Linked DNA regions of Homo sapiens: all the other regions are linked to region 2. Evidence: fine-mapped expression QTL. A gene starts in region 2. Each other region holds a variant in brackets. All regions are shown on one strand. Distances are from middle to middle. Region 1 holds the start of HAPLN4 (hyaluronan and proteoglycan link protein 4). Region 2 holds the start of YJEFN3 (YjeF N-terminal domain containing 3). Region 3 overlaps GATAD2A (GATA zinc finger domain containing 2A).

Region 1 (8,142 bases), 270 kb after region 2:
CCCAACCCCTACCGGAGATCTACTGTATGTCTAGCTACTGGATCTTCACCAAAGAGTCAGCAGCAGGCTCAGAGAGGCCAACTGTCTCCTCCAAGGTCTCACAGCCAGTGAGGGGCAGACTTGAATTGGGGCCTGTGGCTCCAGTCCACAGCAGAGTGTGACTATCGTGAGGCCCCCACCCTGCACAGGGAGCGCCTTTGGGGTGCTGGAGACCAGGACTCCACTATGACTACCCAATGGACAGGTGGCCTGCAGGCCAAATGATCTCTTTCACCAGATCCCCCAGGTCCCCTGCCAAAGCACAGTAACCAAGATAGAAGACTCAGCCCCCTCCTCCATTTCAAAGATGGTTAAACTGAGGCTCAGAGAGGTTCTTCCCTGGCCTAAGTTCAGCTAGCAGGGTGAGGGAACTAGCTCTGCACTCCAAGTCCAGAGCGCTTCTTTCTCCGCCCGCGCTCCAGCCACTGCTCCAGGGGAGCGTGGGCCCCCGCGGCCCCTTTAATACACCCCGCCTCGCCCGCCTTCCTCCTCCCCTTGCAGGCAGACGCCGGGATTGCGCCGCCTGCAGGGACCTGCCCAGTCTTAACCGGGTGTGCGGGGAGCGCAGTCCGGGTGCGTAGGGGCCGCTCGGCGGGGGCCGCGCGGGCAAGATGGTAAGTGGGGCTGCGGGCGCGGGTGGTGTGTGCCCCGTCTCCCCAATCTTGGATTCTATATCTCTCTGCCTCTGAATCTATATCCCTCTGAGTTTCTTCTGTCTCTTCCTTTTCTCTGTCTCTCACCCTCTTTGATCTCTCTTTTTGGCACTCTAGGTTCTCTCCCTCTCCATTTCTCCCTGCCTCTCTCCATCTCTGTCATCCTCTCTGCCTTTTTCCTCTCCTCTCCGTTTCTGTCTTTCCCTGTCCCTATCTCTCCCTCCTCTTCTCTGAGTCTCTCTGCCTCTGGCACTCTCCTGTCTCTCCCTCTCCCTTTCTGTCTCTCCCTCTCCCTCTCTGTCGCTCCCTCTGCCTCTCTGTCTCTCCCTCTGCCTCTCTGTCTCCCTCTGCCTCTCTGTCTCTCCCTCTCCATCTGTGTCTCTCCCTCTCCATCTCTGTCTCTTCCTCTGCCTCTCTCTCTCTCCCTCTGCTTCTCTGTCTCTTCCTCTCTGTCTCTCCCTTTCCATCTCTGTCTTTCCCTCTCCATCTCTGTATCTTCCTCTGCCCCTCTGTCTCTCCCTCTGCCTCTCTGTCTCTCCCTCTCCATCTCTGTCTCTCCCTCTACATCTGTCTCTTCTTTTCCATCTGTCTCTCCCTCTCCATCTCTGCCTCTCTCTCTTCCCTTCCCCTTTTTCTGTGTCGCGCACTCTCTTCTCTGCCTCTCCCTGCCTTTCTCTCTGTCCCTGTTCTCTCCCCGCGTCTCTCCCTCTTTCTCTCCAGCTCTCCCCCCTCCCTGCCCGCCCCGGCCCGGTTTGCTGCAGTCTCCTGGCGCACGGATAACCTTGCTGCCGCCGCTCCTCCAGCTCTTCCCCACCCCCCTATCCCCGGCCCGGGCCAGGGCCAGAAGGGGGCGGGGCAGCGAGCCTCGGGTTTTGGGGTGGGGGGGAATGAGGCGGGATCTGGGGCAGGACTGAGGGCGGGGGGGAGTCTAGGGGCGTGGGTTCTTGCAGAAGCTAGGATGTGAGGTCCCAAGAGGAGGAGGGGGAGTTCTCCAGGACCCCGGAAAGGGTGGGGACATGGGCGTGAGAGAGGTCCTCGCTGTGGGGAAGGCAGGCCCGGGAGGGAGCCAGGCCTCCGAAAAGCCAAGGCTGGGAGGCTGGACTGAGCGCCCCGTGCCCGCCCCCCAGGTGTGCGCTCGGGCGGCCCTCGGTCCCGGCGCGCTCTGGGCCGCGGCCTGGGGCGTCCTGCTGCTCACAGCCCCTGCGGGGGCGCAGCGTGGCCGGAAGAAGGTCGTGCACGTGCTGGGTGAGTCAGGGCCGCTAAAAGTGGTCTTCTCCGCGAAAAGCAGAAGTGGCCAAGTGCGGAGAGGGGTAGCGGGTAGGGCGTTCCTGACGTCCGCGGTTCCCCCAGCCACTCCCCATCTGAGCCCCTCGCCCTCTCCCTGAGCCCCTGGACCCTTCTGATTCCCCGACCCCCACCCGAGTCTTCCCACGTTCCCCTCCCCAGAGACACCTTCCCCAGAGGCCCCCTTCTGCCCCTAGGCCCCTCCTCTGAACCCTGCTTGGTTGTCCTCAGAGGGTGAGTCGGGCTCGGTAGTGGTACAGACAGCGCCTGGGCAGGTGGTAAGCCACCGTGGTGGCACCATCGTCTTGCCCTGCCGCTACCACTATGAGGCAGCCGCCCACGGTCACGACGGCGTCCGGCTCAAGTGGACAAAGGTGGTGGACCCGCTGGCCTTCACCGACGTCTTCGTGGCACTAGGCCCCCAGCACCGGGCATTCGGCAGCTACCGTGGGCGGGCTGAGCTGCAGGGCGACGGGCCTGGGGATGCCTCCCTGGTCCTCCGCAACGTCACGCTGCAAGACTACGGGCGCTATGAGTGCGAAGTCACCAATGAGCTGGAAGATGACGCTGGCATGGTCAAGCTGGACCTGGAAGGTGATCAGCCGGTGGGGAGGATAAACCTTGCTTCTGAGGAAGGAGGGGGGCGGGGATGGCAAGGGACATAAACCAAATCAAGTTGGCCTGCAGGCATTTAGAAGGTTGGTTGGGGTAGAGCCCCCATATCTGGTTCTGGGTGATTTTCCTCCCCAGGGACATTGGCGATGTCTGGAGATATTTTACGTTGTCACATCTGGAGAAGGCAGTTGCTACTAGCCCCTAGTGGGTAGAGGCCAGGGATGCAGCTATACATCCTACCAGGCACAGGATAGTCCCCCACAAGGAGTGATCCAGGCCGGGCATGGTGGCTCACGACTGTAATCCCAGCACTTTGGGAGGTTGAGGCAGGCGGATCACCTGAGGTCAGGAGTTCAAGACCAGCCTGGCCAACATGCCAAAACCCCATCTCTAGTAAAAATACAAAAATTAGCCAGGCATGGTGGTGCATTCCTGTAATTCTAGCTACTTGGGAGGCTGAGGCAGGAAAATCTCTTGAACCCGGGAGGTGGAGGTTGCGGTGAGTGGAGATCGTGCCACTGCACTCCAGCCTGGGCGACAGAGCGAGACTCCATCTCAAAAATAAATAAATAAATACATAAATAAAATAAAATAAAAGTGATCCAGTCCAAAATGTCCACAATGAGGACACTGAGAAGTCCTGGGATAGGATTCAGGCACAGTGAGATCCAGGCACTCACACCGTGTCAGGAACCATCCTTCTGCTCTGCTTCCCAGGTAGGCTTTCTTCCGACAGGCTTCTCTTTCTGGAACCAAGACCACAGTGCCTAGGCTTTCACTTCCCTGCTTAGCAACTGATTTCCTAGGAGCAGCAGCTAGAGTCCCAGAGTTGTCCCTCACTGGCTCAGCTTGAGTCATGTGCCCAACTGTGAGCCAATCACTGTAGCTGGAAGATGGGATGCTCTGATTGGCTCACCCTGGAGCTGGGAGGTGGGGTTTCTATTTGAAGAATTCCCTCCCATTTGATTGGCCTTTTCCAGTTCTCTTTAGAAGATTCTAGGTGAGATTTCAGGGCCCTTGCTTGCTGACCTCCCTAACAATAACAAATAACAACAATAATAGCAGCAGCTCTCCTTTACTGGACATTTTCTGTGGCAGGTGCTTAGTTGAAGAGTTCTCAGGAGTCTCTAATTTAATTTCCTAAAAACCCCAAGGGAGACAGCTATTACCAGCAGATGGACAACAGGCTCAGAGAGGTTAGAGCCTTGCCCAGGACAGTGCTAGTTGGTGGCAGAGACAGGATTCAATCCCCAGTCTGTCAGCTCCAGGCCTTCTCCCTGGACCCTGTCTGCCTCTTTCCAGGGTACCCCACTCACCCCCAACCCGCGTCCCTCAAACACAGACACACAAAATACTTGAGCTGAACGGACTGTGAGTCCAATGAGGGACAAGTTCCAAAGTCATCAGAACTGAAGGTAGAAGGGAACCCAGTGGGTACTCCCTTGGACAATGCTGGGGGAATCAAAGGGGTCTTCACCTAGGGCCAATCTTCCAGGGGGTCCTAGTCTAGGAGAGTCAGCACTGAACGCAGGCTCCGTGGGCTCAGGGCTGGACCAGAGGGAGGGACCCAGTACTGGCGGAATGTCAGAGGCACACAGGACTCAATGGAAGAGGGTTTGGGAGTTGGATTTTGAAGGATGAATAGGAGTTCAACAGGTAGAATAAGGTGGAAAGAGCATGAGCAAAGTCCTCCAGAGGTGGAAGGGGATGGACACAAATAGTATGTTAAGGGGGAGGGTCAAGTGAATCCCAAGCTTAAAGTGAAGGGAGACAGCTATATGGGGTGTGAGCTGGGGAGGATCGTGGTCAGGTCTGAGGCCAGAGTGAGGAGGAATGGACTGAAAGGTCCCGGTTGAAGAGTCACATAGCACCCCAGACGTCAGGTGCATGAGGGTGGGCTGGGGTGTACCTGCTGATCCCGTGCGCCCCCCGCCAGGCGTGGTCTTTCCCTACCACCCCCGTGGAGGCCGATACAAGCTGACCTTCGCGGAGGCGCAGCGCGCGTGCGCCGAGCAGGACGGCATCCTGGCATCTGCAGAACAGCTGCACGCGGCCTGGCGCGACGGCCTGGACTGGTGCAACGCGGGCTGGTTGCGCGACGGCTCAGTGCAATACCCCGTGAACCGGCCCCGGGAGCCCTGCGGCGGCCTGGGGGGGACCGGGAG[T/C]GCAGGGGGCGGCGGTGATGCCAACGGGGGCCTGCGCAACTACGGGTATCGCCATAACGCCGAGGAACGCTACGACGCCTTCTGCTTCACGTCCAACCTGCCGGGTGCGTAGGCCTCACCCCAAGACTGGCCTCTGCTGCAACACTACCCCAACCCCGGGGCCTTCTTCCCCACCCAGCTCTTAGCGATCAGAAACAGGAGACCCCTCTCCCAAGAGTGCCTAGGCGCAGCACACACCGCCTGGTACCAACGCTGGTTGGGCCTAGGCTGGGGTCCCAGGCTGCAAAGGAGGAACTGTTCCTGGATCCCGGGGCCGAGGCCAGAGTCCTAGGCTGCATGCGGGGGGCAGTCCTGAATCCCACCGAAGCAGGGTCCCAGGAGCCGCACTAATAACCCACCCCCCACCTCACCCCCGCAGGGCGCGTGTTCTTCCTGAAGCCGCTGCGACCTGTACCCTTCTCCGGAGCTGCGCGCGCGTGTGCTGCGCGTGGCGCGGCCGTGGCCAAGGTGGGGCAGCTGTTCGCCGCGTGGAAGCTGCAGCTGCTAGACCGCTGCACCGCGGGTTGGCTGGCCGATGGCAGTGCGCGCTACCCCATCGTGAACCCGCGAGCGCGCTGCGGAGGCCGCAGGCCTGGTGTGCGCAGCCTCGGCTTCCCGGACGCCACCCGACGGCTCTTCGGCGTCTACTGCTACCGCGCTCCAGGAGCACCGGACCCGGCACCTGGCGGCTGGGGCTGGGGCTGGGCGGGCGGCGGCGGCTGGGCAGGGGGCGCGCGCGATCCTGCTGCCTGGACCCCTCTGCACGTCTAGGCTGGGAGTAGGCGGACAGCCAGGGCGCTTGACCACTGGTCTAGAGCCCTGTGGTCCCCTGGAGCCTGGCCACGCCCTTGAAGCCCTGGACACTGGCCACATTCCCTGTGGTCCCTTACAAACTAACTGTGCCCCTGGGGTCCCTGAAGACTGGCTAGTCCTGGCAGAACAGTACTTTGGAGTTCCCTGGAGCCTGGCCAGCCCTCACCTCTTCTGGATAGAGGATTCCCCCAACTCCCCAACTTTCTCCATGAGGGTCACGCCCCCTGAGGACCTCAGGAGGCCAGCAGAACCCGCAGGCTCCTGAAGACTGGCCACGCCTCCTGAGACCACTTGGAAACAGACCAACTGCCCCCGTGGTCGCCTGGTGGCTGGACCCCCGGGATTGACTAGAGACCGGCCGTACACCTTCTGCATCTCACTGGAGACTGAACACTAGTCCCTTGCGGTCACGTGGGACACTGGGCGCCTCCTCCTCCCCCTCCTCCTCACCTGGAGAGACTACAGGAACTTCAGGGTCACTCCCCGTGGTCACATGGAGGTTGTGGGCCGAGGCGCTTATTTTCCCTTATGGTGACCTGAGTCCTGGAGACTCCCATTCTCCCCCTCTCCCTGAGAGTCCCCTGCAGTTTCTGGGTAACAGGGCACACCCCTCTAGTTTCATGGGCGAGCACCCCCATCTGCCACCTCAGACTGACACACAGCCAGCTGGCTCACTTACTGGGGGCCACGTCCCACCCCTCAGATATTTCTTTGAAGGGAGAGCAAACCCACCCTGTCCTCTGACGTCCCTTTCCCAACTGTCACCAAACAGACCATCTTCCCAGGCCTGGGGACCGGTAAGATCCATGTCACTAGTTATGCAGAGCAGTTGCCTTGGGTCCCACTGTCACCAAGGCAACCAGTCCTGCTGCTACCTGTCACCTAGAGTCACACACCCCTTCCCTCATCAGGCACACCCATGAAGACAGTGCCTCCCTCCTCCAGCTGTAACCATGGATACCACACATTTCTCATCTCATTGGCCCCCACCCCAGAGACCTCCACCTCAACTTCTGGCTGTCCCTACCCTGACTCACCGCCATGGAGATCACCCTCCCCGAAGCTGTCGCCAGGGTGACCCAACATCCAGTTCTCCGGCTCTCACCATGGAAACAAACTGTCCCTGTCCCCAGGCCCACTCCAGTTCCAGACCACCCTCCATGCTCCACCCCCAGGCGGTTTGGACCCCACCACTGTTGCCATGGTGACCAAACTCTGGAGTCCGAGGTAACAGAACACCTGTCCCCCTAGGCTTTTCCTTGTGGACAACGGGGCCCTGTTCACCAAGCTGTTGCCATAGAGACTGTCAACGTTGTCCTCATGACAACCAGACTTCCAGTTCTCAGGAACTTCTCATTGTGGGCCAGAAGTCCTGGGTGCCTCCTACTAGGGCTACCCTACTGCACCCCATCAGGGGCCTGATGGCTGCCCCTTCCCCAGACAGGGCTGGACTTCTGGAGCTGCTAAGCCACCCTCCGTTTGCACGTTAACTCTATGCCGGATAGCAGCTGTGCACGAGACAATCTTGCAACACCCGGGCATGTTTGTCGTCGTCCTACAAATGAGGAAACCGAGCCTATGGCGTGCCCTGGTCTGTTGAGATATGCAAGCACTGAGCTCCTCTTTTGTCCTCTGAGACCCCATCTCCATTCTCACCCAGTTCCTCTCTCCTTCCCTGACCCCCACCCACATTTCCCTCCTTAGAGATCCAGGAGGGATGGAATGTTCTTTAAAATTCAACACCCACCAGGCTCTAAGCGGCGATCTGTGCTAAGAGGTCAGGACCCAGCCGAAGTCCTCGGCGTTGACAGGCAGCTGGGGGGACATGATCCATGGACAAGGCCATCCCGGCCGTGGGAGACCCCAGTCCCGAAGTCTTGCCTGCAGGAGTACTGGGGTCCCCCTGGGGCCCTCTTTACTGTCACGTCATCTCTAGGAAACCTATCTCTGAGTTTTGGGACCAGGTCGGTTTGGGTTTGAATTCTGCCTCTTCTTGCTCACTGTGTGACCAAGTGACAAACTCCTTCTGAACCTGTGTTCTCCCACTGTACCAGGGCTGTTCTGTGGTCCCCGTGAGTGCCAAGCATACAGTAGGGGCTCAATAAATCCTTGTTTCTTTTGATGAATGAGAAAATGAGGCAGCCAGTGGGTAATTCCTGTATAAATGCACTTTGGTAGATAAGATGTTACAAGCTTGGGGGGCTTGGGGTTTTTTTTGTTTTGTTTTTTTGAGATGGAGTCCTGCCCTGTCGCCCAGGCTGGAGTGCAGTCGTGCAATCTTGGCTCACTGCAACCTCTGCCTCCCGGGTTCAAGTGATTCTCCTGCCTCAGCCTCCCGAGTAGCTGGGATTACAGGTGCCTGCCACCACACCCGGCTAATTTTTGTATTTTTAGTAGAGACAGGGTTTCACCATGTTGGCCAGGCTGGTCTTGAACTCCTGACCTCAGGTGATCTACCCACCTCGGCCTCCCAAAGTGTTGGGGTTACAGGTGTGAGCCACTGCGCCTGGCCGGGCTTGATTTTTATTCTCTTT
Region 2 (8,155 bases):
ACATCCGTAATCCCAGCACTTCAGGAGGATGAGGCGGGTGGATCACTTGAGGTCAGGAGTTCCAGACCAGCCTGCCCAACATGGTGAAACCCTGTTTCTACTAAAAATACAAAAAATTAGCCAGGCATGGTGGTGGGTGCCTGCAGTACGAGCTACTCAGGAGGCTAAGGCTTGAACCTGGAGAATCGCTTGAACCCGGGTGGCAGAGGTTGCAGTGAGCCGAGATCGTGCCACTGCACTCCAGCCCGGGTGACAGAGTGAGGCTCCGTCTCCAAAAAAAAAAAAAAAAAAAAAAAAAAAAAAGGTTATTTGTTGCCAGAAAATGTGGCTACTTAGCTGGAGGTGAAGCTCTGCCATCCACTTCACTGAATGACTGGGGTCCGTCTCCACCTCTCGGAGCAAAACTGAATATTCGGGTGACCTACACAATTGGTCAGACTAGGCTGGGCGTGGTGGTGGACACCTGTAATCCCGGTGACCCAGGAGGCTGAGGCAGGAGGATCACTTCAATCTGGGAGGTGGAGGCTGCAGTGAGCTATGATCACGCCACTGCACTCTAGCCTGGGCGACAGAACAAGACCTTGTCTCTAAGATAATAATAAAAAACACAAACATAAATAAAAAGAGCCAGGCCTAGAAAAGTTGGAAAAACAACTAATGATTCAGAGAAGCCGAGTGGCTTGCCCAGGATCATGCAGGAAGCAAGTTGGGAAACTGGGTCTTTCCCCCTTGGTGTCTCCAGAGCCACAGGACATGAACAAAGACATAGAGCCAGACCTACAGATGGTGGATGTTTTGAGGGGATGAATCCTGAGACTCTTTCCTTCAACTCTCTGAGTGGGAGATGTCTGCCCTCTGGCCAATTTTGCAGCATGATAAGGCCAGGTAGGCAGAGTGCAGGAGAAGGAGGACTGCTATGGGATGGGAGTCAGCGAGGGCTTCCTGGAGGAGGAGGCCTGGCACATCGTGGCAGGTAATGCAGGGGCAAGAATAGCAAAAGCCAAGGCCCTGGGGTGGGGAGGAGCCTGGTATGTTCAAGGGGCAGAAGGGAGGCTGAAGCAGAGTGATCAAGCGGACAGGGCAGGCAGAGCCTCAAATCCCAGACTGAGGAACATGGTGAAGAGGACACTTCGGGGGTCCACACATAAAGACGGAGACAGAGACTCAGGGCAGGAAAGTCACATGCCCTGGGACACCCCAGTAAACAGAGCCAAATTCAAACCTCAGCCTGTCTGCAGCTGACATAGGATGAAGTTGAAGGACGGGGTGAGGAAAAGGAGCTCATGGTGAAGTCAGACAGAGTCCCCCCGGGGCAGGCCAGCGCAGCTCCCAGGAAAGCACATAGGAGGTGCGTTTGCATTCGGGGTGAGGAATCTGGCAGGCTGGGAACATGGCTCATTCCTCCACCTCCATCTTGTGACAGCTCTGACTGCTGCCCCCGCAGGAGGGTGCAGGGAGGAAGTGGAGGGCGGGAGGGCGATGCATTCCTCTTCTTCTGTCCCAAAGCTTTGGCCTCTAGCAGCCACTTGGAACATTCTCTTCCTGTCTAACTGGTCATTAGAATAATGGGGGCTCTGTGGGCAGAGGGTCGTCCAGGTTAGGAACCTGGGGGTGGGGCACAGCAGCAGCTGTGGGGTGGGGGTGGGAGGCTGCGTGGGAATTGGAGCCTGGTGAAGGAGGGTGGCAGGCAGGGCAGGTCCCTTCTGCTGTTGTGGGATTCTGGGGGTGTTCAGTGGTGCCTTTTGCTATCCCGAATCTCGGCCCCTAGATGAGAGAAGCTTCAAGGCCCCAAGGATTTCCCTGTCAGACCCAGGAGGCCTGAAGTGGCCTGGGTCCAAAGGGAACTGGGCCTGACACTCGCCAAATGCTTCCAGGAGGGGGCTTTCTGGGAGGTGAAACCTCAGGCCAGGGTGGCCATGCCACACTCACCCTGCTCTCAGTCCTACCTGCTTCTCTCCACCTCACACCTCTGCCCACCAGACCACCACGGGGGATCACCTGGCCGCACACAGCAGCCTCCTGCCCCCAAAACTCAACATGAGCCTGGGGGGGCTTTGAAAACTCGAACACCAGATTGCATCACCGGGTCCCAAACCTGCTGATGGCTCCCGAGGGCTCTGGGAACATTCAAACTCCAAACTCCTCACCATGCCTAAGAGGCCCTTCTGTGTCTCCAGCCTCGTCAGCCAGTTCCCCACTACGTTCTAGCTCCTACCCACCCCTGAGAGCCCCCTCACTCCCCTCACTTAGCATTTGAGGCCCCCCTCACCTCACCCCTTCACCCCAAGGTGAAGTCACAGCTCCTAAAACACTCTTCCCTAGACTGAGTCTGGACATCGGCTGAGGGGACACGTGCCCTGCTAGGTGGGCAGTGGGCAGGAGCTGTTGGACGCATCTGGTTCACAGTGAGGTCAACAGCCTTGCCTGGGGTCCCATGTCACAAAGGCTGAGGAGGATGAGGTGAGAGTCACAGCCACGGCGCCAGTTCTAGATCCCAAACTCACCAACCTCTGGCAAACAGGCCCTGCGTTCCAAATCTGCTCTAGCCATGACTGCCTTCCCCAGGCCTGTTTCCTCCTCTGGACAAGGGAGGTGGTAGCATTTGAGCTAAGCTCCGCTCTTCCCATGTCGGCAAGTGGGGGCTGCAGCTCCAAGGCCCTGGGAGAGATGGAGAGTGGGGGTGGGCCACGGTTGGGGTTCGGTGGGGGAGCGACCAGCGCTGCTGATGAATCATTCATGAGGGGCGGGCTGCCCCGGAGGCAGTTTCCCCAGCAACGCAGCTTAGTGTCTCCAGCAAGATGCCAGGAGGGTCTCGGATTCCCGGGATTCCCAGGCCCGTCTTGGCCATATCCCTGCCTCCGGTTCCCCACCGTGGTCATGCCTCTGCCGTTGAACCTCCATCCCGGCTGTGCCCGTCTCCAGTCCCCGGACCCCATTCTGTCCCAGCTATGACCCTGCCTCCGGTCCTACGGGCTGCTCCTGGCCCCATGGGAACCATGCCCGTCTCCAGCTTCCCTCTCCCCAGCTGACCTGAGGAAATGCCGCTCTTCGGGCGCCTCCGACGGGTCTGGGCCGGCTGCGCTGCTCATGGCCGAGGTGAGCCCGGGCGCCGGGCGCTGCCGCCACCGCCACCGCCTTTTAAGCGCATCCGTGGAGGGAGGGGACGCCCCCTCTTCTCCTCCCTCCCGCCCACCCTGCATGCCCGCCAATCAGGAAGCGCCGCGAAGGCGCTGCGCGTCACCATTGGTCGGTGGACTCAGACGGACTTCACCCTTTCGTGCCAGGAGCCCACAGCAGAGGCACCTGGCCAATCTTGGTTGCTTCCCCCGACTTACTTTCCCTGCAGATATCCCCGTGTCTCTGAGCTTCCCTCTCAGGGAGCGAGGAGCCCCTCCGCAGACAAATACCCTCGCCATGCCTACAATTGGCAGGGCTGCACAAGGTATGGTGGCTCACGCCTGTAATCCTGTAATCGCAGTGACACGGGAGGCTGAGGCGGGAGGATCACTTGTATCCGGGAGGTCAAGGCTCCCCCCACTCTCCAGACCTCCGTGGAGAAGGTCTGACCCAAAGCTGACCCAGGGGCCCCCAGCCTGGAGAGGTAAGTGGGCTGCTGACAGGCATGGTTTCAAAAGGGAGGCAGGAGAGTCCAGGTATATCGGAGGCAGAGAGGAGGCCGCCAGTGGATCCAGGGGCAGCCCCTAGGTGTGTTTTGAGGTCACCCTGTGCATATCTGCTGCGTCCCCATGCTACATGTGATCCGGTGGTGCCTAGCTGGGCCCTCTCCCCCTTCTTTCCCCCAGTCCCCAGGAAAACAGGCAGGCCAGGTCTGCAGAGCATTTATTCCGTCCCAGTGGGGAGGGGCAGGGATCCAGGTGGCCGGAGGGCACAGGGCCTACGTGTACCACATGAAGCCGTGGCTGGCATGGAGAGCCTCCTCTGTGGTGCGCAGCCCGTACAGCTCCCCGATCAAGGGGGGCACCCAGCGGGTTGTGTGGAACACAGACTCCCCCACCTGTGGGGACAGTGGGGTATGGGTAGAGGCACAGCCACCCATATACAGCCTGCTAGGACCCATCCCCCAGGATCAGTGGCCCCTGTGCGTGGCAGGCGCTACAGCCTTCCCTTGTGGGACCTGGCACCCACCACCCCCTTGGTCCTGGGGTTTCTATAGAAAGCTGTGGGAGCTCCCCAACCCCAGGCCCTGTCTCTGCCGTGGCTGGCACCTCTGCCCTCCCAGCCGGGACCCACCTTCCAGTCGGGCACGTCCTTCATGATGATGGCCTCCTCCTCCAGGTTCTCCCGAAGCATCTGCAAGGTCCTGTGGGGATGGGGCCGATGGTGGGGGTGGGGCCTCAGTGCCCTGAGGGGCCCCTGCCTAGGGCCCCTAGTAGCACCCCTTCAAGCCTCCCTCCGACCCTGTCTCCTTTTCCCCCAGCCAACTCCTAGCTTTTCTCTTGCCCCAACCCCAGTGCTGCCTCCTCCTCCAGGAAGCCTTCCGGTTCGCCCCCTTGGGTCTCCACTAAGTCTCCACGCCTGAGGATGCAGCTGACGGCACAGGGCGATGGCCCCCACGTGCATTCTGGCCACCTTCGGGGATGCAGGTCAGGCCCTGCAGCCTGGGGCCTTCCGGCCAGTGACCTCCCAACCTTGGCCCCTGCGGTGCTACCTCCGGTCGGTTTCTGCCTGTAACAGTGGCAACAGCGCGATGCGAGCCTCGAAGTCCTCGATTTGTAGGCGCCTGTGAAAGCCCGAAACCCACACTCAGGTCAGACCAGGCTAGGTCGGGGGAGCACAGGCAGCACAGACCTCAGGGGCCAGGGTGCTGCTGGGGGAAGAGGCGGAGGGGGGCGGGGAGGCAGGCAGGGGGCAGGGCGAGGGTCGCGGGAAGGGCAAGGGCTGTGGGCAGAGCCCACCAGGAGCCTGAGAGGAGGGCGGGTGCAGGCAGCTGCACGGGTGACTGCCCACAAGACTGTTGGCTTTCTACTTTCTTTTCAATTAAAAACTTTTTTTATCCTAAAAATAACTCTGCCTGATGATCGCGACGAAGAGGGGGTGACTTCATCACGGGGCTCTGGGCCTCACAAAACCACGTCCCCTTCATCTCAAAATAATCAGTGTGTGAGGCTGGGGCAGGCGGGGCCACAATCTTTCCTTTCTTCTCCCTGCTTTCTGGCAGTTTCCAAGTTCCCTGCAATGACCCCCATCTCCCAGTCCTGCCTGGCCTGCGTTGGGGTTGGGGGAGGGGTGGGGAAGGAGTGCCCAGCCTGTGACACAGGGAGAGGGGGGCGCCTGGCCCTAGTTCATCTGGCCCTGTGTGTCCACTGCCTGGTGTGGTCTGGTTTGAGCCTGGTCACCTCTGACAAAATCCTGCTTAGAGGGCCCGAGGCAGGCCCCCCACTCATATCCTGTCCTAATCTGGATCCACGGGTCCCAACCCTCCTCACTAGACACATTTTTTGGGGTGGCGAGGACAGGGTTTCCCTCTGTTGCCCAGGCTGGTCTTGAACTCCTGGGCTCAAGCAATGCTCCCACCTTGGCCTCCCAAAGTGCTGGGATTGCAGACATGGAGACATCTCGAGGACAGAGCCTAGAAGTGGAAGTGCTGGGTCTGGATCTGCACTTTCTGGGGCCTGGGATTGCACAGCCAAGTCCAAGGGGCCCGTTCACCCCTCGCCAGCACAGACAACAGCGGAATGCTACAGGACCCCGACAACTCGCCGGGGGGGCACTTTCAGACAACGCCCACCAGGGGCCCTACCTGCGCTCACGGTTCCACTTCATTATGCTCCAGTGCCCGTAGATCAGGGTTCCAATCCCTATGGCCAGCATGCTGTAGCCTGTGAAGAGAGGCGCTGCTCAGCGGGCCAGCCCGCCCCCAGACACCCTCCTCCACAGCTCCAGGCGCTGCCCACTCTGCAATCAGGGGACACTGGCGGCTTCTCAGGAGTGAGGCTGCTTGGACTGTGACACCTCTGCCCCCATGCCAGGGGTTTTCTGAAAGGTACAAGCCAGGCAGCAACCTCAGGAGGCCTGAGGGTCTAGATGGTGGTTGCTAGGGGGGCCCCAGGTCCATCGTGTTCTAGAAGGCTGTTTGGACCCTGGGCGGCAGGCTGGCCCTGAAGTGGAAGGGCAGTTCTGACAGTGTCCATGGTGGCTCCCGGCCACCTGGGCCACAGTTCCGCGTGCTGCCCTGCGGGGGCTGCACACAGCTGCCAGGGACAGGCAGTGCCCTGTGGGGGCTGCCCAGCCACCCCCCGGACTCTAGGGGTGGCCGTGCTACCTCTTGGCTCTGCAGGGTGAAGCCCCCTGCCCTGCACCCCAGGAAGGACCTAGGCCATCATGAATATTTACTGAGCACCAGTGGGGCCTTGCTCTAATCCTGACTGACAGGCTGGGGGCCCACTGGGATCTTCAGAGAGGCCTGGGCTGTCTGGGATCTGGCTCCCAGGCTCACCCTGCACCCTCCAGATCCTTCCAGCCCCAGTCTCTTCTCTGGACAGGCTTTGCACTTGGTGGGATGAATGAAAAGCTCAGGTAGGCCAGGCTCCAGTCAACACCCAGGAAATGACCAGCAGGTGGAAGGCAAGGCCATCTCCAGGCCTCCAGGGCACTGGCCCTGCTCTATGCCTGCTGGGGCTACTCTGTGCCTGCCGGGCCCTGCTCTGCACCTGTCATGCTCTTCTGCCTTCAGCTCTGCTCCAGCATGGAGCTCACGGGGGCACCTCTGCTAGACCCGGAGATAAATGAGAAACTGGCTCAAATTTGTACCTGGTTATTTAACCTGTTAGAAGCCCAAGTCAGGGCTAAGACATTTCCATACTACAGGTAATGAGGGTGTGCTGGGTCCGGGCTCAGAGGCACATCTCTGGAGAGGCCCAGGGTGCTCAGGGCCAGCTCCCAGCTCTCAGCCTCCTGTCTAGCACATGGGAGGTTTCATCAGCTGCCTTGTTCATTTTTTTTTCCTTTTTTGGTTTTTGGTTTTGAGACAAGGTCTCACTCTGCTACCCAGGCTGGAGTGCAGGGGCGCAATCATGGCTCAATGCAGCCTCCAACTCCTGGGTTCAAGTGATCCTTCCACTTTAGCCTCCCGAGTAACTGGGACCCCAGGTGTGTGCCATGTCCAGTTAACTAATTTTTGTACAGATGGGGTCTTGCTATATTGCCCAGGCTGGTCATATCTCGTTCTTTTCTTTTTTTTAATTAATTTATTTTTGAGACGGAATCTCACTCTGTTGCCCTGGCTGGGGTGCAGTGGCAAGATCTTGGCTCACTGCAACCTCTGCCTCCTGGGTTCAAGCGATTCTTCCACCTCAGCCTCCGGAGTAGTTGGGACTACAGGCGCCCACCACCACGCCAGGCTAATTTTTGTATTTTTAGTAGAGACAGGGTTTCACCATATTGGCCAGGCTGGTTACGACCTCCTGACCTCATGATCCACCTGCAAGTGCTGGCATTACAGGCGTGAGCCACCGTGCCCGGCCATATCTCATTATTTTCCACGGCTACAGAGAACCCAGGGGACAGACCTGGGCTGCCCTCAGCCTTCTGGTGCAGAAAATGGGCCCTTGGGGAGAACCTGCACCCTCACACCTGCGCACTCATACGCAGGCCCATCTGTAAGATAAATTCCAAAGAAGAAATAAATTCCAAAACTTATCCCACAGCTGTGTGTACAAGACAGCGTGGCACTGGCATAGAACAGAGATGTATGAGATGACAGAAACAATGCAGGGCCTCTTGTATTTGCATGCAGCCTGCACAGGGCTCTTCCTCCTCGCCAACCACAGGGGGGCCAAGGCCCCAGGCCTCAGAGTCTGTGCCTTAGGAACTGCTAGTCTGGTGGGGAACATGGTGAGGGGCACGCACAAAAGGGTGTGTGGACCATTCTTTTTGTTTTTGGTTTTGGAGACCGGGCCTCTCTCTGTTGTCCAGGCTGGAGTGCAGTGGTGGGATCAAATTTTTTCGGCTCACGCTTGTAATCCCAGCATTTTGGGAGGCTGAGGTGAGAGGATCACTTGACTAGGAGTTTGCAACTAGCCTGTGCAACACAGTGAAACATTTACAAAATACGTATTTTATTTTATTTTTTGAGACAAAGTCTCGCTCTGTAGCCCAGGCTAAAGTGCAGTGGTGCGATCTCAGCCCACTGCAA
Region 3 (8,171 bases), 120 kb after region 2:
TGCCTGCAATTCCAACTTTGGGGGAGGCCAAGGTGGGTGGATCACGAGGTCAAGGGATCAAGACCATCCTGGCCAACATGGTGATACCCTGTCTCTACCAAAAATACAAAAATTAGCTAGGCGTGGTGGCATGTGCCTGTAGTCCCAGCTACTTGGGAGGCTGAGGCAGGAGAATTGCTTGAACCGAGGAAGCAGAAGTTGCAGTGAGCCAAGAACATGCCACTGCCCTCCAGCCTGGTGACAAAGTGAGACTGTCTCAAAAAAAAAAAAAAAAAAAATATTAGCCCGGCATGGTGGCGCACGCCTGTAATCGCAGCTACTTGGGAGGCTGGGGCAGGAGAATCGCTTGAATCTGGGAAGCGGAGGTTACAGTGAGCCAAGATTGTGCCACTGCATTCCAGCCTGGGCAACAGAGTGAGACTCCATCTCCAAAAAAAAAAAAGGCTGGGCGTGGTGGCTCACGTCTGTAATCCCAGGGCTTTGGGAGGCCAAAGCGGGCAGATCACCTGAAGTCGCGAGTTCAAGACCAGCCTGACCAACATGGAGAAGAAACCCTGTCTCTACTAAAAATACAAAATTAGCTGGGTATGGTGACACATGCCTGTAATCCCAGCTACTCGGGAAGCTGAGGCAGGTGAATTGTTTGAACCCAGGAGGCGGAGGTTGCAGTGAGCTGAGATCATGCCATTGCACTCTAGCCTGGGCAACAAGAGCAAAACTCCGTCTAAAAAACATAAAAAAAAAAAAAGTAAAGACATCACCTACTCAACACTACTACAGTTTTTTGGGGTTTTTTTGGGGGGAGGGGGGCGGGGGCAGGTCTCACTATGTTGTCCAGGCCAATCTCAAACTCCTAGCCTCAAGCAATCCTCCCACCTCAGCCTCCCAAAGAGCTAAGGTTACCTGAGCCACTACACTTGGCCACTATAGTTTTTTTTTAAGGCTGCCCTGAGAAACCAGAGGCAGCCCTAAGTTCTCCCTCCCCATGTCCTGCCCCATCCTCACCCTACAGACACCCAAAATGACCTCAGGACTCAAAAAAAAAAAAAAAAAAAAAAAGGGGGCAGGGTGTGGTGGCTCACACCTGTAATCCTAGCACTTTGGGAGGCCAAGGTGGGCAAATCACTTGAGGCCAGGAGTTCAAGACCAGCTTGGCCAACATGGTAAAACCCCATCTCTACAAAAAAAAAAAAAGAGCTGGGCGTGGTGGCGTGCGCCTGTAATCCCAGCTACTTGGGAGGATGAGGCACAAGAATCGCTTGAACCGTGATGCAGAGGTTGCAGTGAGCCGAGATTGCACCACTGCCCTCCAGACTGGACAATGGAGCAAGACTCTGTTTCAAAAAAAAAAAAAAAAAAAAAAAAAGACAAGGCCCTGAGGAAGGAAACTGACCAATGGACCTACATAAATAAAGTAAGAAGGAAGCTAAAACAAAATTCACCAAGCCACAAAGACATCAGTAAGAACAACAGAGATCTGAAAGTCTAATTCCAGGAGAAAACAGGGATATATCCTCATTCCTTCTGCAAGTCAACCTTGGGCAGGCCACTCCTCCTCCGCTTGAGCCTCAGTTTCCTGTTTGTGCCCAGTGTTGGGTTCAGCAGAGCACAGTACACAGAAGAAAGTCCCAGGTAGAATCCTCAGTTTGTCTGCTACCCAACTCCCAAAAATAGTTATATTTCTAATCCTATAACCTGACAGATACAAACTAACAATAAGACTGCAATTACATTTGAACCTATACTCAGTATATGTTAATATACTTGCCCAAGAAAACTTCAAAAGCAGACCAGGCAACTCCTACCACCAACATCTGAGGCTCCCACCCCCTCCCCAGACTTCGGCATCAGGAAATGTTGCTTGTACAGTCAGAAAAGAGACAACAACAAAAAGACTCAACACTAAAAACTTGACCAAAAGTTTGGGGAAGGGAGGCAGGAGACAGATGGCCCACATACAAACTACCGAGGTCAGTTCATCAAACGAACGTATTAATAAAAACATCAAACACAGCCAGGCACGGTGGTTTACACCTGTAATCCCAGTACTTTGGGAGGCCAAGGTGGGTGGATCATCTGAGGTCAGGAGTTCGAGACCAGCCTGACCAACATGACGAAACCCCATCTCTACTAAAAATACAAAAATTAGCCAGGCAAAGTTATGGGTGTCTGTAATCCTAACTACTCGGGAGGCTGAGGCAGGAGAATCGCTTGAACCCAGGAGGCGGAGGTTCAAGCAGTGAGCCGAGATTGCGCCACTGCACTCCAGCCTGAGCGACAGAGTGAGACTCCATCTCAAAAAAACAAAAACAAAAACACCAAACACACCAGCAAACTCTCCCTGGGTTAGAGTGGCTATAAGAGAACCCTAGGAAAGGAGCTGACTACAGAATCCTCTGAAAGAACCACCACTGAACGGGGTGGGCATGAACCCTCGGCAAACCCAGGGACACTACATGAGAAGACAGAAAATGAAGTTCAGGTGTTCCGTCAATGATACGCAAGTCCTGAGAACAGCACAGGTCTCGAGAGTGACGGAACCAATTCAATCGATGCCTTCAAACCAAGAATTCAGTTCACCACTCTCCTACTTTCTCCAGCCACACTTGAGCAACAAGGAAAAATGTTCCTCTGCGGATGTGAACGAAGGTGGTAGCAGCAGTTTTCAAAACTTGCTGGCAGAGTGAGCCTGTGCTAAACACACAAGAGAACTAAAAATCTGCTGTCACTACCACCAAATTCCACCAACTTGAAACCCCAGCAACAAGAAGACAGATGCTCCTCAACTTATGATGGGTTTATTAGAATGCAGCCCCACTGGGAGTAGAAAATATCAAATGCATTTAACACAGCCACTGGTCCCATTTTACAATTATTCGACTTAAAATTTCTCAACTTTACCATGGTACGAAAGGGATCTGTGTTCAGGAGAAACTGTTACAAATCAAAGGGAGCTCCTCGACTTACAATGGGGTTACCTCTGATAAACCCAACATAAAGTTGAAAAATTTTAAGTCAATCCATCGTAAATTGGAGGCCTACTTTACTGGCCTAAAACCTGCCCACCTCCGAGGTCAGGGCAAGCAGCCGTCTCTAAGGTAAGAATGTGTTGAGTATAGATTCACAGCCACTGACTCAAAGGTTAATTGCACAGAATGGCTGTGACTGGAGAAAATGTTAAGTTGGTATTATTTGTAGAGTTAGGGCCACAGGGTTTTTCACATCCCTTCCAGATAATCTGATCAGACCTTTTTTATCCCCCCCGCAGACAGAGTCTCACTCTGTCGCCCAGGCTGGAGTGCAATGGCATGATCTCCTCTCACTGCAGCTTCAACCTCCCAGGCTCAACCGATCCTCCCATCTCAGCCTCGCAAGTAGCAGGGCCTACAGATGCATGCCACCACACCTGGCTAATTTTTTTTTTTTTAAGAGATGGGGAATCGGCCGGGCACGGTGGCTCACGCCTGTAATGCCAGCACTTTGGGAGGCCGAGGCAGGTGGATCACAAGGTCAAGAAATCAAGACCATCCTGGCCAACATGGTGAAACCCCGTCTCTACTAAATATACAAAAAATTAGCCGGGTGTGGTGGCGGGCACCTGTAGTCCCAGCTACTTGGGAGGCTGAGGCAGGAGAATGGCATGAACCCCGGAGGCGGAGCTTGCAGTGAGCTGAGATCGCGTCACTGCACTCCAGCCTGGCTGACAGAGCAAGACTCCGTCTCAACAAAAAAATT[A/T]AAAAAAAAATTAAAAATTAAAAAAAAAGAGAGAGAAAAAAAAGCGGCCTGAGACAGCCCACCAAAAAAAAAAGAGAGAGAGAGAGAGAGAGATGGGGGATTGCTACATTGCCCAGGCGGGTCTCGAACTACTGGGCTCAAACAATCAGCCTGCCTTAGGCTCCCAAAGTGCTAGGATTACAGACGTGAGCTGCCGCGCCCGGCCTTGACCTGACTCTTAGGCCTCCAAATTGTTAGCTTGCAGTAGGATTCTGTTATAAAGAAAACCAAGCTCCTCAATCTGAGTGTTACATTATATGTGATAACTGAGATATGAGGTGTTCAAGAATCACTGTGTAGTTGACATCTGGGGGGAGAAAGCTTTTTGGCTCTGAGGTAAATGGAGAGGCAAAGGCTGGAATACCCCTGACTGCCTGTAGACACTTTCCACTTGTCCTCACAGCATCCTGTTAGGTCAAAGATGCTGTCTCCGCCAACATAAGAGAAAGCTGAGGCCAGGTGATCAGGTGACCCACCCAACGCTGAAGAGTGGTAAACTGCATATCGTCAGTGACAAAGCCAGATCTGTCCAACTCCAAGCTGGCTGGAGAGCTGTCAGTCTGAAAGGCAAGTCCAGGAGGATGAGATTCACCCTGGCGCTCCCAGACACCACTGCAAGTACCATCAAACCACCTACTTCCAGCCTCCACCCAGAGTCCACTCAGTGACAGGGACCCCTCTCAGTTCTCTAAGGAAGGCTCCCATGACAGATCTGCCCGGCAAACAGCTTCCCATCTCACAGATGGAAGTCCGGATGCTGGCTTCCACAAGCCCTGGGCCAGGAAAGAGGCTGCCTCCTGGCTTGGGGCACAACCAACCCAGGCATTCAGTATCGTCAAGAAGGCCCCAAGGCAGTGGAAAAAATAGACAACGTCTGAAATCAGAAAGGCTGGGTTGGGTCCCAGCCGCCGAATAATGAGCAAGGTGACTATGGCAAGTATCACCTCCTGTGGGGAACTTTGCCTTCTTCACAGGAACATGGAGAGAGGGGAATAGGCTGGGGCACAAAGCTGAGGCATGCGCCCCAGTGTGGCTCCAAAGGGGGCATGCAGACAGTGACAGTTTGCCATGAGGGTGGTGTCATCCCCCACAGAAGAGGTGGGGCAGTTGTTAATGCTTGTGAACTCTGGCTCATCTGTTACAGTCATAACAGTACTCACTGAACTGCAACATGTGGAACACACAGGCACTGGGGTCGATCATTTGCACTTGTTATCTCACTCCCAACACAGCCTTCCACGGGAGATAGTAAGTACCCCCTTGACAGAAATGGGAAACAGGGGTGATGTTCAACAAGGTCTTTCGCTAGGAAGTGGCTGGGCAGAGCTCACACCAGGCTGTCTTGAGGCAAAGCCAGGGCTGTCCTGGATGCCACTAGAGACAGGCTGCTCAGCAATAGGCACACGGCCACACTTGGCAAAAAGCAGGTGCCCCCTAGACTCAAAGTGGCCTCCTTGGCACAGGAGGAGCTGCTGTGCCACCATAATGCAGCAGTATTTTTAAAGTGTGTGCTCGAAGGCACCACCTTATTTAGGCTACGTTTCAAGGTTCAAACCAGAATATCTAACCGGCAAGGCAGGCCACGCAGCGCCAGGTCCTGAGACGGAACTGCAGGAGGAATAGCTGAGGGATTCTTCAACAAATCCTTCAAACAAGTGGAATTTCTCCCCAATCCTGTACCACATGGCCACACCCCTCCCCACAGGCATAGCTACTATCTTTGAGGCCAAGCAGCAGGAAAGCCCTGAAGCCTTGACCACTCCACCCACCACCCCCATCCCCCACCCCCTGCCCCAAGAACTCCCACTTTGACTTGCTGGGAGCCCTCCTTTAGAGTACTGCTCATCTCCTGCCAGCAAATCCTATCTCAGAAGCTAGCCTCCAGCATCCTCGGAAATTGCAGGTCTTCAGCCCTTCCATATAAGGAACCCTAAAATCAGGAATCAGACAGAAAGGCAAGTTCCCTGACAAACTCACCTGTGAAGGTGCCTCTGGAGGCTGAGGAGAGACAAAGGGGGTACAGCGTACAGAGGAGCTGCAAGGGGCCCTGGCAACTGTGCAAACTGGTGCAAACGTGTGACATTCTCACTGAGGGCCCCTCTCTCCCACACCTAGAGGGTTTCGTGGATTCCCAATCACTTCCTGAGGCTACCTAAAGGTATTCTATTAGGGTAAATTCCTTTGTCTTCTAAAAGACTAACCTACATTTCCATCAGACAAAAAGAGGTCACAAATATAGTCTGGAAAGCACAAGGTGGGGGAGGGGCAAGAAGCCAACGGTCTGACACTCTCTTGACAAAAAAGTCCCAGATCCTGTTTGCGGGGATGCTGGGGAACCCATGCTCGAGCGGGATCTGTCCCCAGTGGTACCTTTGTTTCTGACAGTACGGGTCTCACTATTTCCACCTCGCTGCAACCACCAACCACTTCAAGATCCGTCTTTTTTTATCTCAACCTTCTTATTTTTAATACACTGCCTTCCTAATTCCATTCAAAGACATACCTTTGCACAGTTAGCACTTAAGTCCTGTTAACCTGGAAGACCCACAGTCTGAGGCCAGACTGTGGAAAGCTACCTCCCGAAGCAGCTCAGATAACTCAAAAGCATCCATTCTAACAAACGACCACACTTAGCAGGCAGCATAGTTCTGTATGCCTCAAACTATGACATTGCCAACTTGTTCTTCTGGTTCTGCCACACTTCCCAACCAGACAAGGGTTAGGAGGAAATCCCAGGGATGCTCTATTACCCCAGGACAGCTGCTCGAGAAGACTTCACCCACTCACCTATTTCATAATCTTCCTAGTTTTCTACAACCAGCATAAATTAACTCAATTATGGGGGGGAAAGGTCTAGAGAAAATAGCCCTGCCTGTTCCATTTGATGGCACAGAAACACCCCGAGTCCAAGCAGGTAGTTCTCCAGAAAAGCATCTGAGCTGCCCAGGCTTTGAGGTGTCAGTACATGCTAATGATGGTCCTTAAACAAATTCAGTGGTAAGGGCCATTACATTTTTGTCTCTGTTGGGAATTCATATATCCAAAACTCTGCTGGTCATTCTTAATTTTCTTCCAAGAGAACAAACACCAAAAAAAAAAAAAAAAAAAGCCAACATTTCAAGAATGGCTTTACAACTTTACCAGCCACATTCTTCAGAGGCATCCTTTAGTCATCTGCTAAGACCCAAAGAGGTCCCGGCTGTGAGCCTCACTGCACCAGCCCTTGCCTTAATCCCCTTCAAGAGGGTCCCCCTTCTTGTTCTCTGACCCCAGTAGGAGAAAGGTCCTTTCGGGCTCACCAGGTCACAGTGTCCTTCTCTCCTTGATCCCTGTAAGTTTCCCCATGTTTATAAGATTAATTACGACTCCTGGCCCACTAATCTCACTATAAACTCTACTGAGGAGGGATTCCTCGCAGTGTCGAAGGCACAGTATGCACTCTGATATTTGTTGAATATATCAATCTAGAAATCACTACCTGCAATGCCAGAAATTCAGAAAATAAATGATGCAAAACAAGTCAGAGGAGCTACTGAAGAGTTGAAAATTAGAGTATTTAAAACATGTTTCCTCATTAAAAACATACACACACACGCAAAATACAGAGACACTAAAAAGTTTTCTAAAAAAGAAAAACTATTGCTAATCCTAATGTAGAGACCTTTATTGACATTCTGGTACAAATCCTTCCAGGATTTTTTCCTACCGAAAGTAGCATTATATTTTTCCCTCACTATCAAAATATAAGATTATAGGATTTGCCAAATGATACTGCATTAATAGAGATGACTTGACATTTTAAAAAATGATGTCATCTGAGTGGAAATAACAATGCATCCGCCAGGCGTGGTGGCTCACGCCTGTAATCCCAGCACTTTGGGAGGCTGAGGTGGGCAGATCACGAGGTCAGGAGTTCGAGACCAGCCTGGCCAGCATGGTGAAACCCCGTCTCTACTAAAAATACAAAACTTAGCCGGGCATGGTAGTCCCAACTACTCGGGAGGCTGAGGCAGGAGAATTGCTTGAACCTGAGAGGCGGAAGTTGCAGTGAACCAAGATCGTGCCACTCCAGACTGGATGACAGAGCGAGACTCCGTCTCAAAAAAACAAACAAACAAACAAAACACACTGCATCCAAATCTTTCCATTCTCTATAGCCCTTCCAAGATGAGAAGCAATCTTCATAAAAACCAGCTTCGGAATTTTATGAGACAAATAAGAACTGAAAGATGAAGGAGGGGAGGGAATAAGTGAAGACAGAGGATACAGAAAATCCCTTGCAAATTTCCCACATCCTATAAACTGTTTCCTCTAGAAAAGGGCCAACTTTTCTGAGTCCAAAGCTGAAGAAGCGAATGCAAAGTAGCAACTAACTCTGTAGTTCAGTTCCTTAAAAT

Evidence for each region. PIP is the estimated chance that this variant, and not a neighbour inherited with it, causes the effect.
Region 1: its variant is fine-mapped to the expression of YJEFN3 in tibial nerve (GTEx, PIP above 0.99). The same link has a PIP of 0.9 or more in cerebellar hemisphere, cerebellum, coronary artery, liver and thyroid.
Region 3: its variant is fine-mapped to the expression of YJEFN3 in whole blood (INTERVAL, PIP above 0.99).

Annotation. Positions count from the first base shown.
Region 1 is chr19:19,255,241-19,263,382 of GRCh38, reverse strand. It overlaps HAPLN4 (hyaluronan and proteoglycan link protein 4), which reads left to right and starts at 579. Exons shown (of 5, transcript NM_023002.3): 1 at 579-653; 2 at 1,820-1,937; 3 at 2,208-2,570; 4 at 4,528-4,860; 5 at 5,175-8,142. The coding sequence starts at 651. The coding sequence ends at 5,566. The variant T/C (reference allele first, on the strand shown) is at 4,757.
Region 2 is chr19:19,523,867-19,532,021 of GRCh38, reverse strand. It overlaps YJEFN3 (YjeF N-terminal domain containing 3), which reads right to left and starts at 3,111. Exons shown (of 7, transcript NM_198537.4): 1 at 3,031-3,111; 2 at 2,509-2,658. The coding sequence starts at 3,089. NDUFA13 (NADH:ubiquinone oxidoreductase subunit A13) reads right to left here. Exons shown (of 5, transcript NM_015965.7): 2 at 5,762-5,840; 3 at 4,670-4,741; 4 at 4,252-4,321; 5 at 3,824-4,015. The coding sequence ends at 3,896. RefSeq lists enhancers at 1,445-2,376, 3,352-3,852, 6,194-7,169 and a silencer at 5,648-5,942.
Region 3 is chr19:19,407,726-19,415,896 of GRCh38, reverse strand. The region is part of intron 1 of GATAD2A (GATA zinc finger domain containing 2A); the gene reads right to left. Among named protein-coding and RNA genes, the nearest start is that of GATAD2A, 6.1 kb to the right of the region's middle. RefSeq lists a silencer at 4,793-4,882 and an enhancer at 4,993-5,102. The variant A/T (reference allele first, on the strand shown) is at 3,736.